4 linked regions of the Homo sapiens genome follow. The protein of the gene in region 3 purifies or fractionates together with the protein of the main gene of each other region. This does not show direct contact. Each region holds a gene or a part of one and is shown on either strand. Other genes may lie near its edges.

What was found.
Region 1: the proteins of CSTPP1 (region 3) and SPECC1L purify together in Homo sapiens (affinity purification with mass spectrometry; one large-scale study listed by BioGRID and IntAct). This does not show direct contact.
Region 2: the proteins of CSTPP1 (region 3) and PCDHGB4 purify together in Homo sapiens (co-immunoprecipitation; one large-scale study listed by IntAct). This does not show direct contact.
Region 4: the proteins of CSTPP1 (region 3) and NCR3LG1 purify together in Homo sapiens (co-immunoprecipitation; one large-scale study listed by IntAct). This does not show direct contact.

The regions. Positions count from the first base shown.
Region 1 is NC_000022.11:24,416,035-24,418,238, forward strand, and holds the end of SPECC1L (cytospin-A), read left to right. Parts: 3' UTR 1-1,704; downstream 1,705-2,204. UniProt on the Homo sapiens protein: Involved in cytokinesis and spindle organization. May play a role in actin cytoskeleton organization and microtubule stabilization and hence required for proper cell adhesion and migration.
Region 2 is NC_000005.10:141,390,698-141,394,197, forward strand, and holds part of PCDHGB4 (protocadherin gamma-B4 isoform 1 precursor), read left to right. Parts: intron 1-1,935; exon of another isoform or gene 1,936-2,116; coding exon of another isoform or gene 2,117-3,500. Other genes in the region: PCDHGA8 (protocadherin gamma-A8 isoform 1 precursor), read left to right, coding at 2,117-3,500. UniProt on the Homo sapiens protein: Potential calcium-dependent cell-adhesion protein. May be involved in the establishment and maintenance of specific neuronal connections in the brain.
Region 3 is NC_000011.10:46,939,757-46,945,070, forward strand, and holds part of CSTPP1 (centriolar satellite-associated tubulin polyglutamylase complex regulator 1), read left to right. Parts: intron 1-5,314. UniProt on the Homo sapiens protein: Regulator of the tubulin polyglutamylase complex (TPGC) that controls cytoskeletal organization, nuclear shape, and cilium disassembly by balancing microtubule and actin assembly.
Region 4 is NC_000011.10:17,365,300-17,368,799, reverse strand, and holds part of NCR3LG1 (natural cytotoxicity triggering receptor 3 ligand 1 precursor), read right to left. Parts: intron 1,792-3,500; coding exon 1,453-1,791; intron 1-1,452. UniProt on the Homo sapiens protein: Triggers NCR3-dependent natural killer cell activation.

The sequences.
Region 1 (2,204 bases), on a different chromosome or scaffold from region 3:
CACTGCCCCACAGACTGGATGCAATGAGGGGCTCACAGGAGGCCCAGCCAGCCCGATTGTGGGCTGAGGGGTCTGCATTCAAGCACGATGTTCTAGAATAGGAGTTTAACGTGTCTACGTAACCTAGAATGTGGTTATTAGGAAAGGGGCTGTGCATGTGGGTGCAGCTGGCGGCACACCTGGTCACCAGATGGCCAGAAGCTGCCCATCAGCCCTGCCCAGATGTCAGCCTGGGAGCTCAGGCTGCTGCCGCTGGCTGGATGCCCTTTGGTGAAATGCCTGTTTTCAGCTAAGAAAGGAGAGGCCAGGCAAGCAAAGTCATGCCACAAAGCATATCAGAGACCCCCGCAGACTCCTGGCCCCGTCCCGCCCCCTGTCTGAGTTGTGTTTTTGTTGCTGTTCCTCTGTTGATGGCCAGCTCTGCTGTTGGCATGAGCCACTGATGTTCATGTGAGAATTACTGTTTTTAAGTGTCTCTCCACTTAGGTGTCCTCAGTTCCCACTTTTGCTCTCATTTGCCTTCACAGAGGCCACTCCACCTGTCCGGATCCAGCTGTCTGGTCATGGTTTGGTTTATTTATTTTGTCCTTCAGGGGCTGTTTTGCCCTAAGAATGAGGGGGCTTCCCCTGGTCTGCAGTTCCCAACTTTATCCCTTGCTGGCCATGCGAGCCCAGCCCTGGTGCCTCATGGGATGGGGGGGTAGGGGTCCCCAGGATCTTCTGGAGGAAGGTGGCCATGGATGGATGGGCTGTATCTGTGTTTTCCCTCTGGGAGTCTCATGGGTCCAGCATCAGGCCTGAGGTCAGCAACAGGGAAAGAGGGTGGGCACGGGGAGGGCTTGGCCCCGCCTATCTAGAGGCTTGCCTCGGGCCCCTCCTTGGGGAAGGTTTGCGTGCAGAGCTGCAAGGGAGAGGGTTCCAGAAGCATTGCCTTTTGCCTCGTCTAATAGGATCCTTAGGACACTGTGGGCTTTAGGAATGACTATAGATGCTCACACGTGTTTAAAGTGACATTTGGAGATGCTCTCAGTCCTGTGGCATCTGGCACGAAGTCTCCAAGAAGCCACTTTGCCTCTTCTCCCTTCAAGCACAAGCTTTACTGCAAAAGGGCCAGTCGCGTTTCTATTTCTCTCGATCCCAGGCTTCTGCGGACCGACGATACGTTTAAATGTTGTTCTAGTAAATATTCTTGAATGTATTAAAATGGCTGAAACAACAAGCTTGGGCTTTTCTAGCTTGCCCTCCACTCCCTGCCGTCCCTCTGACGTCGCATAAACCAGAACCCAGCTCCCTCCTGGGACTGGCTGTGGAGAGAAGGGCACCTCTGAGCCAGCCTGTGGCCCTACCCCAAGGCGCACTTCCTCATGTGGGCAGATCCTGACCAGGAGTCCAGGGTGGCCTCCCCTGGGCCACAGCACATCACCGTGTGGCCTGGGGCTGTGGGACAGTGAGCCCTGTAACCACTAGGGTTCTGTGACAGATGCCAAGACCCCAGAGACCGTGGCAGAGCTACCCCCAGGAGAGCGGAAGCCCCTACACAGCCCAGACACATGCCTTCCCTGGGGGCTGGGGAGTGTGTCTCGAGGGGTTTTGTTTGTTTTGAGGCATGTATCATCTTGGAAATAATTGTCAGGATGTATAAAATAGAGAAAAAGAAAAAAGGTATCCTACCCAGAGGCAACCAGATAAACTTTTTTGCCTGTGCATTGTTTTTTGTTGGTTTTTTCGAGACGGGGTCGATCACGGCTCACCACAGCCTTAACCTCCAGGGCTCCAGCAATCCTCCCACCTCAGCCTCCTGAGTAGCTGGGACCACAGGTGTGTGCCACCATCTCCAGCAGTTTGTTTATTTATTTTTTCTTTTTTTTTTTTTGGTAGAAATGGGCTTTTCGCCATGTTGCCCAAGCTGGTCTTGCACTTCTGGGCTGAAGCAATCCTCTCGCCTTGGCCTCCCAGAGCCTTGGGATTACAGGTGTGAGTCACTACAGTGATTGTGAATGCACTGAGCTGGCCTGGAGAACACTTACCACCTTGTCCACGTCACATGCAAAAGGCCCATGGTGGTGGTGCTTCCTGCACACGAGGGCATGTAGTGAATGCCCTTCCCAGGTGGAGACTCCTCAGGGTTGGGAGCCCAGCAACTGCCTTGGCCCTGAGTAAGCCAGGAGTTGCACTGTGACCTGCAAGTGCTTGGGAGCTGCACC
Region 2 (3,500 bases), on a different chromosome or scaffold from region 3:
ATTCAACACTTTTCTTAACTAATTTAACTGGTATGGTCTCCATAGTAGTCCACTGTTTTGTTTCCTGTGTTAACTTCCCTTTTGTTTCAAAAGCTCTTAGAATAAGGAGTCAACTGGATTTTTATGTCCATGGACCCCTTGTGATTATATGCAGTGTACGCTGTGTGTGCGTGTGTGTGTGTGTGTGTGTGAGAGAGATCCTTTTACTTAGAAAAAGGTCTACTATGCTCATTAGAAGATCAAAAGCAGATTCTCCTTACTTGTAACATAGGAGTTTCAGGATTAATCTGTATTCAAGCTCATTCTATATCCTTCATCAAAGAAAAGACAATGTTTTGTGTCTGTTGTCCCTCTCACACACAGCCCTAATATATAATGTGTAACTGCCTTATCTGCAGCCCTAAACTAATATAGCTAGAGGTCTTCTAATCATTCTCCTACCTCTAGGAAAGAAATATAGTCTTGAAAACTGCCAATCTGGTGTGCATACAAAATATATACAAAATACCAAGGAACATTATATGAGCCTTTTGCTAGGTATATCTAAGCAACTGCTTCAGTTAATGGCCACTTTACAAATTGCTGAAAGAAGGAAACGTCTTTCGATTCTTTTTTTTTTCTTTTTTTTTTTTTGAGACAGAGTCTCTGTCTGTTACTCAGGCTGTAGTGCAGTGGCACAATGATAGCTCCCTCCAGCCTCAAACTCCTGGGCTCAAGCATTCCTTCTGCATCAGCCTCCTGACTAGCTGGAACTCAGGCTCATGCCACCAGACCTGGCTAATTTTTCTGTTTTCAGTAGAGAAAATATTTTCTTTCACTAATTTAACTGGTATGGTTTCCATTGTCTACCCAGTTTTCCATATGCATAAGAAAATATATTCACAGGAAAATATAAAGTTTTCAGATTTCATGAGTGGTTTTAAGAAAGTTTTAGTCAGTGAAAAAACTATCATACCAGTCTTCAAAGGAAGGGTGAAATAAGTTCATCTGCTACGTTGCCCAGGCTGGTCTTGAAGGGAAACAGACTTTTTTGTAGTCATACTTATCCTTTGGCTTCTTAGTAAGTATTATATAGTCATTACTTTTTGCAGTTTTTTAGATCAAAGTGTTAATGTAGGTAAAGTTAATTTTAGAATATATGTAAAAGTCAAGTCTGCTTTAAATTTAATCATCTCTTTGGTGAAAGGGATGGGATGGAGCTTTGCTTTTTATCATATATTCATCTGTACCTTTCAAGTATTCAAATAGAAAAATATAAACAATGTAAATAAAATAGCAAAACAATGTAATATCTCATAAAACTGCAATGGTAAAAGCATTTATCCTATTGAAATTCCACAATTTTTATTTGAAAATATTATCGACATGTAATTCAAGTGGCATTTAGAAGAATAATTTAAAAGCAACAACTCTATAGAAAGCTTGTAAAATGATTAAGTAGTTTAAACCAAATAAAACAATTTCTGAGTCAGTCATCTCCAGTAGGTCTATTTTAGTCTCAAGATAAATTCATTTCTGGTGACAACTGAAGTTCTTAGTTATTTGTTAGTATATATTGGAGACATTTACAATAAAGCTTAGAGCACAATGGGAAATGAAAGTATCATGTTTTTTTTAAGACCAAATGTATTGCAGAAATGTGAGTAATTTAATCCGATGCTACAATCTGATCATTCTGATCTAATCTGATCATTTAATAACACTAAATAAAACCTTCATCTCACATTCTTTGGCTGTTTCTTTTAAAATATGGGTTTACGGATAAATCAAATAAATTCAAAACAAAGTAATAAGCAAATGATTTTTTTTTCTCAGTAATCTAGTAGAGTATTACATTTAGAAGTAATCTGTATCTCAGTGCAGTAACTATTTAGGACTGTAAGCGCCGCTGTTCACCTACTGGAAGACAAATGCAACCGAAAACACTCAGATCTCACACCTCACGAAGACCCGCAGATGCCACAAACTAACTGCTGGACTGCAGCGAAACCCGACCCCTGTTTGGAGGCACTCCAGGTTTCCGGAGGATTGTCATCTCCATAGCTGCGGCAAGAAACTAAATAAGACCCATTTATGCACAGTGAAGATTCTGAGAGGATTCTGCAGCAAAACAACAATGGCCGCTCCACAGAGTCGCCCCAGACGCGGCGAGCTGATCCTGCTGTGCGCGCTGCTGGGAACGCTGTGGGAAATCGGGAGGGGACAGATTCGCTACTCTGTGCCAGAAGAGACGGACAAAGGCTCCTTCGTGGGTAATATCTCCAAGGACCTGGGGCTGGACCCCCGGAAGCTGGCGAAGCACGGAGTCCGTATCGTCTCCAGAGGTAGGACGCAGCTCTTTGCTCTGAACCCGCGCAGCGGCAGCTTGATCACCGCGGGCAGGATAGATCGGGAGGAGCTCTGCGCTCAGAGCCCGCGGTGTCTGATAAATATTAACACCCTGGTTGAGGATAAAGGAAAACTCTTTGGGGTAGAAATAGAAATAATTGATATTAACGATAATAACCCAAAATTCCAGGTCGAAGATCTAGAAGTAAAAATTAACGAAATCGCGGTTCCTGGAGCACGTTATCCACTCCCAGAAGCTGTTGACCCGGATGTGGGCGTGAACTCCCTCCAGAGCTACCAGCTCAGCCCCAATCACCACTTCTCCCTGGACGTGCAGACTGGAGACAATGGAGCCATAAACCCAGAGCTGGTGCTGGAGCGCGCCCTGGACAGGGAGGAAGAGGCTGCTCACCACCTGGTCCTCACGGCCTCGGATGGCGGCAAGCCGCCTCGCTCTAGCACAGTGCGCATCCACGTGACAGTGTTGGATACAAATGACAATGCCCCGGTTTTTCCTCACCCGATTTACCGAGTGAAAGTCCTTGAGAACATGCCCCCAGGCACGCGGCTGCTTACTGTAACAGCCAGCGACCCGGATGAGGGAATCAACGGAAAAGTGGCATACAAATTCCGGAAAATTAATGAAAAACAAACTCCGTTATTCCAGCTTAATGAAAATACTGGGGAAATATCAATAGCAAAAAGTCTAGATTATGAAGAATGTTCATTTTATGAAATGGAAATACAAGCCGAAGATGTGGGGGCACTTCTGGGGAGGACCAAATTGCTCATTTCGGTGGAAGATGTAAATGACAATAGACCAGAAGTGATCATTACGTCTTTGTTTAGCCCAGTGTTAGAAAATTCTCTTCCCGGGACAGTAATTGCCTTCTTGAGTGTGCATGACCAAGACTCTGGAAAGAATGGTCAAGTTGTCTGTTACACACGTGATAATTTACCTTTTAAATTAGAAAAGTCAATAGGTAATTATTATAGATTAGTGACAAGGAAATATTTGGACCGAGAAAATGTCTCTATCTACAATATCACAGTGATGGCCTCAGATCTAGGAACACCACCTCTGTCCACTGAAACTCAAATCGCTCTGCACGTGGCAGACATTAACGACAACCCTCCTACTTTCCCTCATGCCTCCTACTCAGCGTATATCC
Region 3 (5,314 bases):
ACTATTATTGTTTTCCTGTGTATCTTTCCAGAGTTTATTATATACATAAAGGAGTATACAGTGCATACTTTTTCATTTAATACATCTTGAAGTAATTTCCGTTTCTTTTGTTTTTTCTTTTCTTTCTTTCTTGAGACAGAGTCTCACTCTGTCACCCAGGCTGGAGTGCAGTGGCACCATCTCGGCTCACTGCAACCTCCACTTCCTGGGTTCAAGCCATTCTCCTGCCCCAGCCTCTCAAGTAGCTGGAACTGCAGGCACGAGCCACCACACCTGGCTAAGTTTTTGTATTTTGGGTAGAGATAGGGTTTCTCCATGTTGCCCAGGCTGCTTTTGAACTTCCTGAGCTCAAGCGATCTGCCCACCTTGGCTTCCCAAAGTCCTGGGATTATAGGCGTGAGCCACTGCGCCTGGCCTCGAAGTAATTTCTCAGTCAGTAGGGAGCTTCTTCGTTCTTCATGAAATTCATTTTTAGCTATATAGTATTTAAATAATTTATTTAACCAGTCCCGCACTGGTAAACAAGTTGTTTTTAGCCTTTTGCTGTTACTAAGAATGCTGCAATGAATAACCTGCAGTTTTGTTCCTTTGCAAGTGTATCTGCAAGAATAAGTTCCACAAAGTGGAATTGGTGGATTAAGGGCATATGCATTGAAGTACTTATAGATATTGTCAGATTGCCCTTAATAGGTGTTGTACCATTTTGCCACCAGCAATGAAAGAGAATGCCTGTTTCCCCATTGTGCTGACAACAAAATACATCAAACTTGGATTTTTTTCAATCTAAGTGACAGATAGTCTGAGTAGATTTAATATGCATTTTTAAATGAAGTTGAGTGCCTTTTTACCAAGTTTAAGGGCTGATTGGTCTTTGAAAGCTATATATATACACATATATACATGAACATATATATAGACATATATATAGAGAGAGAGCTTAAGACAGTGACCACATCCATTAATCAGCTAAAAGGGGATATCACAGACAATTTTGTATCTAATGAATAACAGTATCAATGTCAAGCAATGCCTAGACTTTTTTCCAAAGATTTTATGTATTTTATTACCCAGTACTCAATGAATATATGAAATATTTGAAAAGGCTAGTTCATTGTTCAGTTCCTTGGGTGTTTGCTGTTTGAATTTTATGTCTCAAAGGCTTGGCAGATTTGGTGTATTGGTGCCTTGGTGAATAGAAGTTGGTGGTCTCTTCATAAATGGCGTTTTCAGGAAGGCCAATTCAGTGGCAGTGTTGAGAATGAATCTACAAACAGAATCAGAGTCTCAGGTTGGTTGAAAAAGCTTCAATGTTTGTGAAGCCCAACCAATCACCTAATAATTGAATCCTATACAAATGCTTCTTCATGCTTTGTTGCATATTTAAGTGTCTTAATTCCTTGTCCTAACCACTAACTAGACATTCATACTGCCCTCAGCATGGTCACACCCCTCACTGCCTTCTCCTGGTTCATCAAACCGTATCACTCTGCTGAAATGCGTTTGTCTTTAGTTGAGAACTATCCCTGCCTTTTACAATTTGTCTCTCTTAGAGGCATGCTGCTTTGACCTATTCACCCTCAATTTTTTTTTTCTTTTTTCTTGAGACGGAGTCTCGCTCTGTCACCCAGGCTGGAGTGCAATGATGTGATCTTGGCTCACTCCAACCTCCGCCTCCAGGGTTCAAGTGATTCTCGTGTCTCAGCCTCCCAAGTAGCTGGGATTACAGGCACCTGCCACCATGCCCAGCTAATTTTTGTATTTTTAGTAGAGACAGAGTTTCACCATGTTTGCCAGGCTGGTCTCGAACTCCTGACCTCAGGTGATCCACCCACCTTAGCCTCCCAAAGTGCTGGGATTACAGGTGTGAGCCACCACGCCTGGCCAACCTATTCACCCTCAATCTAATGACCGTTTAAAACCACTCCCTACAGAATAGATTAATAAAATATTTCCTGATTTAAATTTTTAAATACCTGTGATTTTTCCATTTGTTTTTATTTTTATACATTATAAAGTTACTTGTATGTGTAAGCCTAAAGAAGACTATACTTATAGAGAAAACAAAACTGCAGACTGGAAAGCCCTAGGCATTCAGTGAAACCCAAAAGCTAAAGTTGAGTTCCCCTTGGTTAGTGTATCTGGAGACCTCTCTTTAGGATTATGGTGTAAATTACAGGGATACCTATCCAAAGAATATCTAGAGATATCCCTTTCTCCCTGCTAGCTAGGGATTGTATTTACCTTTCTGACTATTAGTGAAGAAATCAATCTTTTATCATGTTGGGTAAACTGATCCTTTCCCCACTGACTTTGTAGATTAGGAACCTGTAATCATGGCCTTGCATGGCTTAAGATCTTAAGATCATCACTAAAGAATAGCTTAGTGATGTTCATGTCTGCAGTCATCAGAATGTAGTGATAAAAATTGTGTTAATGCCTAGGCCTGAAGAGAGAAAGGAGAGTCTGGTAAGGAGATGAAATAAGTATAGACCCTCTCTGTAGGACCCGCAAAAGGTTTCCAGCCTTATGAAACCTACTTAGTGGAAGCTTCTGCCAGAGGCTGAAGGTGTGTCTGTGTATCTGGTTGGGTGTGGCGAGCTCTCTAGAGCCAAAGGGCAGCCTGTTCTGGTCCCAGGTTTGCCAAACATACCACCTACGTGCTGACCTGAGTATAAGCATGAGGGCGTGAGGTTTATTTTTTACTCCACCTAATTTGGTGAGGTGCATGCTTTCACTCACGCTCCAAGTTGCCTCTTCTTTTCCATGGAACCTGCTTATTCTCACTACGGTTGATAGTGGGTTAGTATAATAGATAACTCTAGAAATCAAAGATGGCCTTTCTCCTTTGGGGACTAGACATTTAGAAGAATCACAATAAATTGGGTAGTTTTTTTTTTAAGCTATAGTTTTTGAACTCTTCCTATATGCCTGGCACTGTGGTTTATCTCATTTAATTTTCACAACTACCATATGAAGTGGGTACTCTTACTGGTCCCAATTAGTAGTTATTAATATCATCTTCTCATTTTATAAATAAGGAAGCTGAGGCTTAGAAAGGCTAATTGATTTGCACAAGGTCACACAGGCAATGATGCATAGTAAACAGGGGTTCATACCCAGGTTTGTCATATTCCACAGCTTGTGTTTTTTCCTCTTCACTAAAAAGATAAAAACAAACCAAAAAACCCCTATTGGTTCAAAGGGCAGTAATTCTTGCTTCCTTATTAAGGATGAGGCTCTTGCAAATAAATTTCTTGGGAACAAGAATTGTGTTTTACTCATCATTGTCAACCTTCTATCATTGTCTACCTTCTATCACTGTATACCTTCTATCATTGTATACTCTCCTACACTTAATTCATACGTATATGTGAAATGGAATATGAATAATCTGACCTTAGGGTACCCTAAACATGAGTAGCTAACAAAAGCAACCGAGACTTATTAAGAACTTACTCTGTACCAGGTACCATTTTAAATGCTTTACATATATTGATGTATATGAAGATAGTTTCAGTTGTTATCTCCATTCGGCAGATGAGGAAACTACACACAAAGATACCAAATAACAAGTTGTAAGTGGTGGATCCAGAATTCTAACCCAGCAGTCTAATTGAAGTCCACATGGTTAAACTCTATGCTATAAATACTTTGAGCAACTCCCAAAGTGGGGCTCCAACTATTGTGTAGACCTATACGTGGATCCTGGAGTAAGGTCAAGTGATTCCAGTGTCTTCATTTAACATTTCTGCCATGAGGAGGCATCCGAGGAATGAGGATGGATCAGGGAATGGTAAAATTTCCAATTTCTTCTTGCCACTGGACTCATCTCTCAGAGGCAGGCAGTGAGGAAGATAACTTCTACCATTTGGGAGAATTTTATTGACAATCATCTTTGTACTTTGGGTAGCTGTATGACCTAGAAGAAATCACTTAACCTCTCTGTGCCTTAGTTTCCACATCTCCAAAATGTGGGTGGTAATAGTACAGTCATGGTGGCTTACGCCTATATTCCCAGCACTGTGGGAGGCCAAGGAGGGAGGATTGCTTGAGCCCAGGAGTTTGAGACCAATGGGACATAGTGAGACTTCGTCTCTACTAAAAATAAAAAAAAAATAGCTGGGTGCAACAGCATGCATCTGTAGTCCCAGTTACTCAGGAGGCGGAGGTGGGAGGATGGCTTGAGCCCAGGAGGTCAAGGCTGCAGTGAGCTGTTTTCACACCACTGCACTCCAGCCTGGGTGACAAAGTGAGACCCTTTCTCAAAAAATTTAAAAAAGGCCAGGCATGGTGGCTCATGCCTATAATCCCAGCATTTTGGGAGGCCGAGGCGGGTGGATCACCTGAGGTCAGGAGTTCGAGACCAGCCTGGCCAAAATGGTGAAACCCCATCTCTACTAAAAATGCAAAAATTAGCAGAGCGTGGGGGTGTGTTCCTATAGTCCCAGCTACTCAGGAGGTTGAGACACGAGAATTGCTTGAACCCGGGAGGAGGAGGCTGCAGTGAGCTGAAATCTCACCACTGCACTCCAGCCTGGGTGACAGAGTGAGACTGCTTCTCAAAAAAAAAAAAAAAAAAATTGTGCTTGCCTCATACATGTAAGCATTTATCCTGTTAGAGCACCTGTGTAGGTGCTCAATAAATATTAGCTGCTAGTGTTATTACCATATTTTTGTGCAAATACGTAAACATCTGGTGGCAACCAGGAATGTGTGCCTCTCAGATCTCCTACACTGGGGAGGGGAGGGTAATTGACTCCTGACCCCAGCTCTGAATCTAACACCTTGTTCACACTGAGGTCACACTTTCCACAGACTGCTCCTAGTCAATGACTGGGCAGGACAGACCCACTTCCATGAGATGTTTTACTCCTCTAGTGGGTGACTTTGGCTTAAAGACTCTCACTGCACACTGCTAAGTCCCTCATTCTCCCTTCTCCCTCCTAAAGGAGGGATAATAATTAGGGTCCCTCCTAAAGGAGGGATAATAAATTAGGGTCACACCTGCATTTGATCTCTTAGCTCTCCCAGACTCCTCCGGCTTCCTTCCCATTTTCTATCATGGGCGTTTCCCCCAGTACATCTCTCGCATGTCTGATCCTGTTTTGGTGTCTGTTTCTCACAGTATCTGAGCTAAGACAACATCTAACAGTTACTGATATAGTCTCTTCCAGCCATGAGGTTAATACAACTTCTTTAGGACTTGGCAAAGGTTCTGACATAGGACCCCTTCTATGTGGAAGATAAGTGTTACTAATCTTAATTTTTTTTGTATTTGCTGATACCACAGCATATGATAGTTACTTGTCTGACT
Region 4 (3,500 bases), about 30 Mb from region 3:
CTGCTGGGAACTGTGTGGTTGTGTCATCCTCCTTGTCAGAGATTTAACCACCAGCCCTCTGCCACATGTCTCAGCATCTCCATTCCTATCACATACACCTCCATACATCAAACAGTGTATGTAGCACTTGCCAAAAATATGGAAGATGAACACCACGTACCACATAATTGTGCTACCCTCATCTTCAAACCTTGTGTAATACGACACCATCTTCTATCCCTATGTGCATACCACATAGACAACCCCTCGTACCATACATGCAAGGTATATTTCCATTTCATACTCCCCATGGACACACATACCCTCCCTGCATCCCTGCACATGCCACCCACACACACACCTAGTCCTAACTTCCAAGAATAATTCCTCTCTCCCCAGGATCATCCTGGGCCCCATATGGCATTGCCTGACCACATTCCTCAGTGCCCCAGTCACTCCCTGCCTTCCTTACTCTTCTCAGCCCCAGGGAGATGCATTTTACCAGCAGAGCCACCCACACCCAAGACCAGAGCTATGACCAAGGCATATGAGCTCAAAAAGCCCCAGCCCACCAGCAGGAGTGGGTCTGCCGTGAACTGTGTTTTAAGGATCCAGTGTGCCTGGGGAAGGCATTGAGCATTTGCAGAACCACTCTACTGTAGCCCTCCCCATCTTGGGACACAGCCCATAAGACAAGACTACTGGCCGGGTGCTGTGGCTCATACCTGTAATCCCAGCACTTTGGGAGGCTGAGGCGGGCGGATCACCTGAGGTCAGGAGTTCGAGACCAGTCTGACCAACATAGAGAAACCCCATCTTTACTAAAAATACAAAATCAGCCGTGCGTGGTGGTGCATGCCTGTAGTCCCAGCTACTCAGGAGGCTGAGGCAGGAGAATCGCTTGAACACGGGAGGTAGAGGTTGTGGTGAGCTGAGATCACGCCATTACACTCCAGCCTGGGCAACAAGAGCGAAACTCCATCTCAAAAAAAAAAAAAAGACAAGACTACTGAGTCAGCCTCTACCAGCCAACAGTTTACAGTGGACCTAGAGCCTTATTAGAAGGGCTGCTAGCAGGACTGGTCCCTGGCCCCTGATAGCCCCTTATCCTCAGGGAACACGGGTAGGATACTGTCCCCATTCCCCTAGCAACTGGCAGGTTTCCTATTTCAAGCCATATGGACCATCCAAAACCCTGAAGCTGCCATGAGCTGACAAATAGCCCTGCTCCACCTGATGACTACAGTCACCACTCTCCACCTACTAAGACCATCATCTGCCCAGGTGTAGGGACCTAGGCTGGACTGCTGACTCTGGGGCTGAGCTAGGCCAGACTCCAGCTTGGTCCTTCCAGTCCAAGCTTTCTCTGTTTCCCCTTCAGTCCCCAGCTAAGACCCAGGCTGTGTGGGAATAAGTCTTATGTTATAGTCCCTCAAGGCAAGGAAGAGAAGAAATGTCCAGAAAGACCCTTACCAGAAAGACTGTGCCGAGCAGCAGTCAGGGTAAAGTTGCTCCTCAAGGGGGTATGCAAGGACGCATGCCGTACCACACACTGGTAGACAGTCCCAGGGTCTTCCTGAGAGGAGTTCAGCTTCAAGCAGCTAGTGACATTAAATGTGCCATCCATATTCTTGATGGTGGGACCAGTGATGACATCCTCAGAAATCTCTATGGGATGGGGAAACTTCTGGGTCTGCTTCTCCCATGTTATATTAATAGCCTCTGGGTAGAACCCACTTGACTCACACATATATTTGTCTTCATTCTCTTTCATGCCCACTTGATCCAGCAACAATCTGCTGGCTGGGGAAGCTGTCAGGGAAAAAAAATCATACAGAGTTGGGCCCAGCACCCTTTTATCCCCACCACACCTTATGCTAACTGGCTTCTACCATACCCTCACAGCTATGCATCACTGCTCCTGTAGCCAGATAAGACAAAAAACACAGGATGCCTACTCTTTAAAAATGCTGCAACCATGTCCAGCAATGAGCTGGAGATTTACAATACCAGACTGGGCACTCCTTAAGGGTAGGGAGGGATTAGCTTATTATCAGCCTGACATCTGAGCCATGGTAAGCCTTCAGGACATGTGAGTGACTGAATGCAAGTCAGCTTGGGCTAAATATTCTGGGTATGTTGGTGCCAGTGCCAACCGGGTACTGACATGCTGTGACCACAACTCTCACAGCAATTTTGTAAAGCAGAGTTTTCTTAAGCTGTGTTGTGAAACAGACACCTTTCATAATCTGAGGAAAGCCTTGGAACACTGTTGTGGTAGAGACTGCTAATTGCTCTTCAATTTCCATTCTGTGCATTTTTAGCTGGCCATGACATATCCAGATTAAACCTGTATCACCCAACCTCCACTGCAGGTATGTTTGGTCATGCAAACTCAGGGGTCTAGTAGGCCTGGATTTATGCAAAAGTGGCAAGAGCAACTTCTAGGAAGTATCCTTAAACTAAAAGGATGTCTTAAAAGACTGTCTCTTTCTCTCTCTCTCCTTATTTCCTGCAGAATGTTTGGAATACTATGTGATGACTGGAGATGGATAAGCCATTTCCAAACACAAGGTGGACGATACATACTGAAGATGGCAGAGTGACAAGATAAAAGGATCATGGGTCCCAGATGATCACAGAGCTAGCTGCCATATCTGCCCTGGGCTGGCTACATTAGTGTGAAAGAAAAATAAACTGCCATTTCCAAAGCCACTATTGACTTCCAGGTTTCCCTCTCACATGAGAGGTCATCACTCCCACCCTATAATAAGAACAAAAGCTGAACAAATTGAAAATCAACAGCTTTTCTTAGATTCCTCAGAGAATTGAAGTGACAGGGCAAACTGCCACTCAGAAAACTGGAGAAAGAAGGAGATTAAGAAAATTACAGCTAAGATCAAATCACCTCATGCAGAAGCTGCTGGAGTCATAAACCAGTAGAAGTACTTAAGCAGTAACTCCGACAAACTGCTAAAGGATGAGTGTGGACTAGCTTGAGAATAAAAACCTCCTCAGGTCCTGGTCTTAGGGATGCTTACCACACTTTCATGGGTTTTCATCCTCGGGACCCAGTCTTGGGGATGCTATCACACTGTCATGAGTTTTACTTCCAGGAACCCCACCAGATTCTCACAGTAAAGAGCCAAGAAAAATCTCCTCCTCTTTCTGGGGGATGGAAAGAAGTAATCATTTTAAAATATACCTAGATTATTCCCTCCATCTCAAGGGAAGATGTCAGAGCCTTATCTGACCTGAGAGAAGAAAATTAGCCAACTCCAGCTGTCTATAGCCTTTCTGTATTACTTAAGAAGAGAGAAAGAGAAAAGGCTAAGAAACACTTCTGAAGGCCACAGTCCAGAGGCTCAGGCCACTAAAAGAATAAGATTTAATCATAAAAGTATAAACAGATTCTCCTCCAACACTTTACTACCACATCAACAGGGCTCCAGTATAATAACAGAAGATTATAAGTGAGAGAGCTACAAGGCACAGAACCTATTTAAGGAGTTCATAAGGAA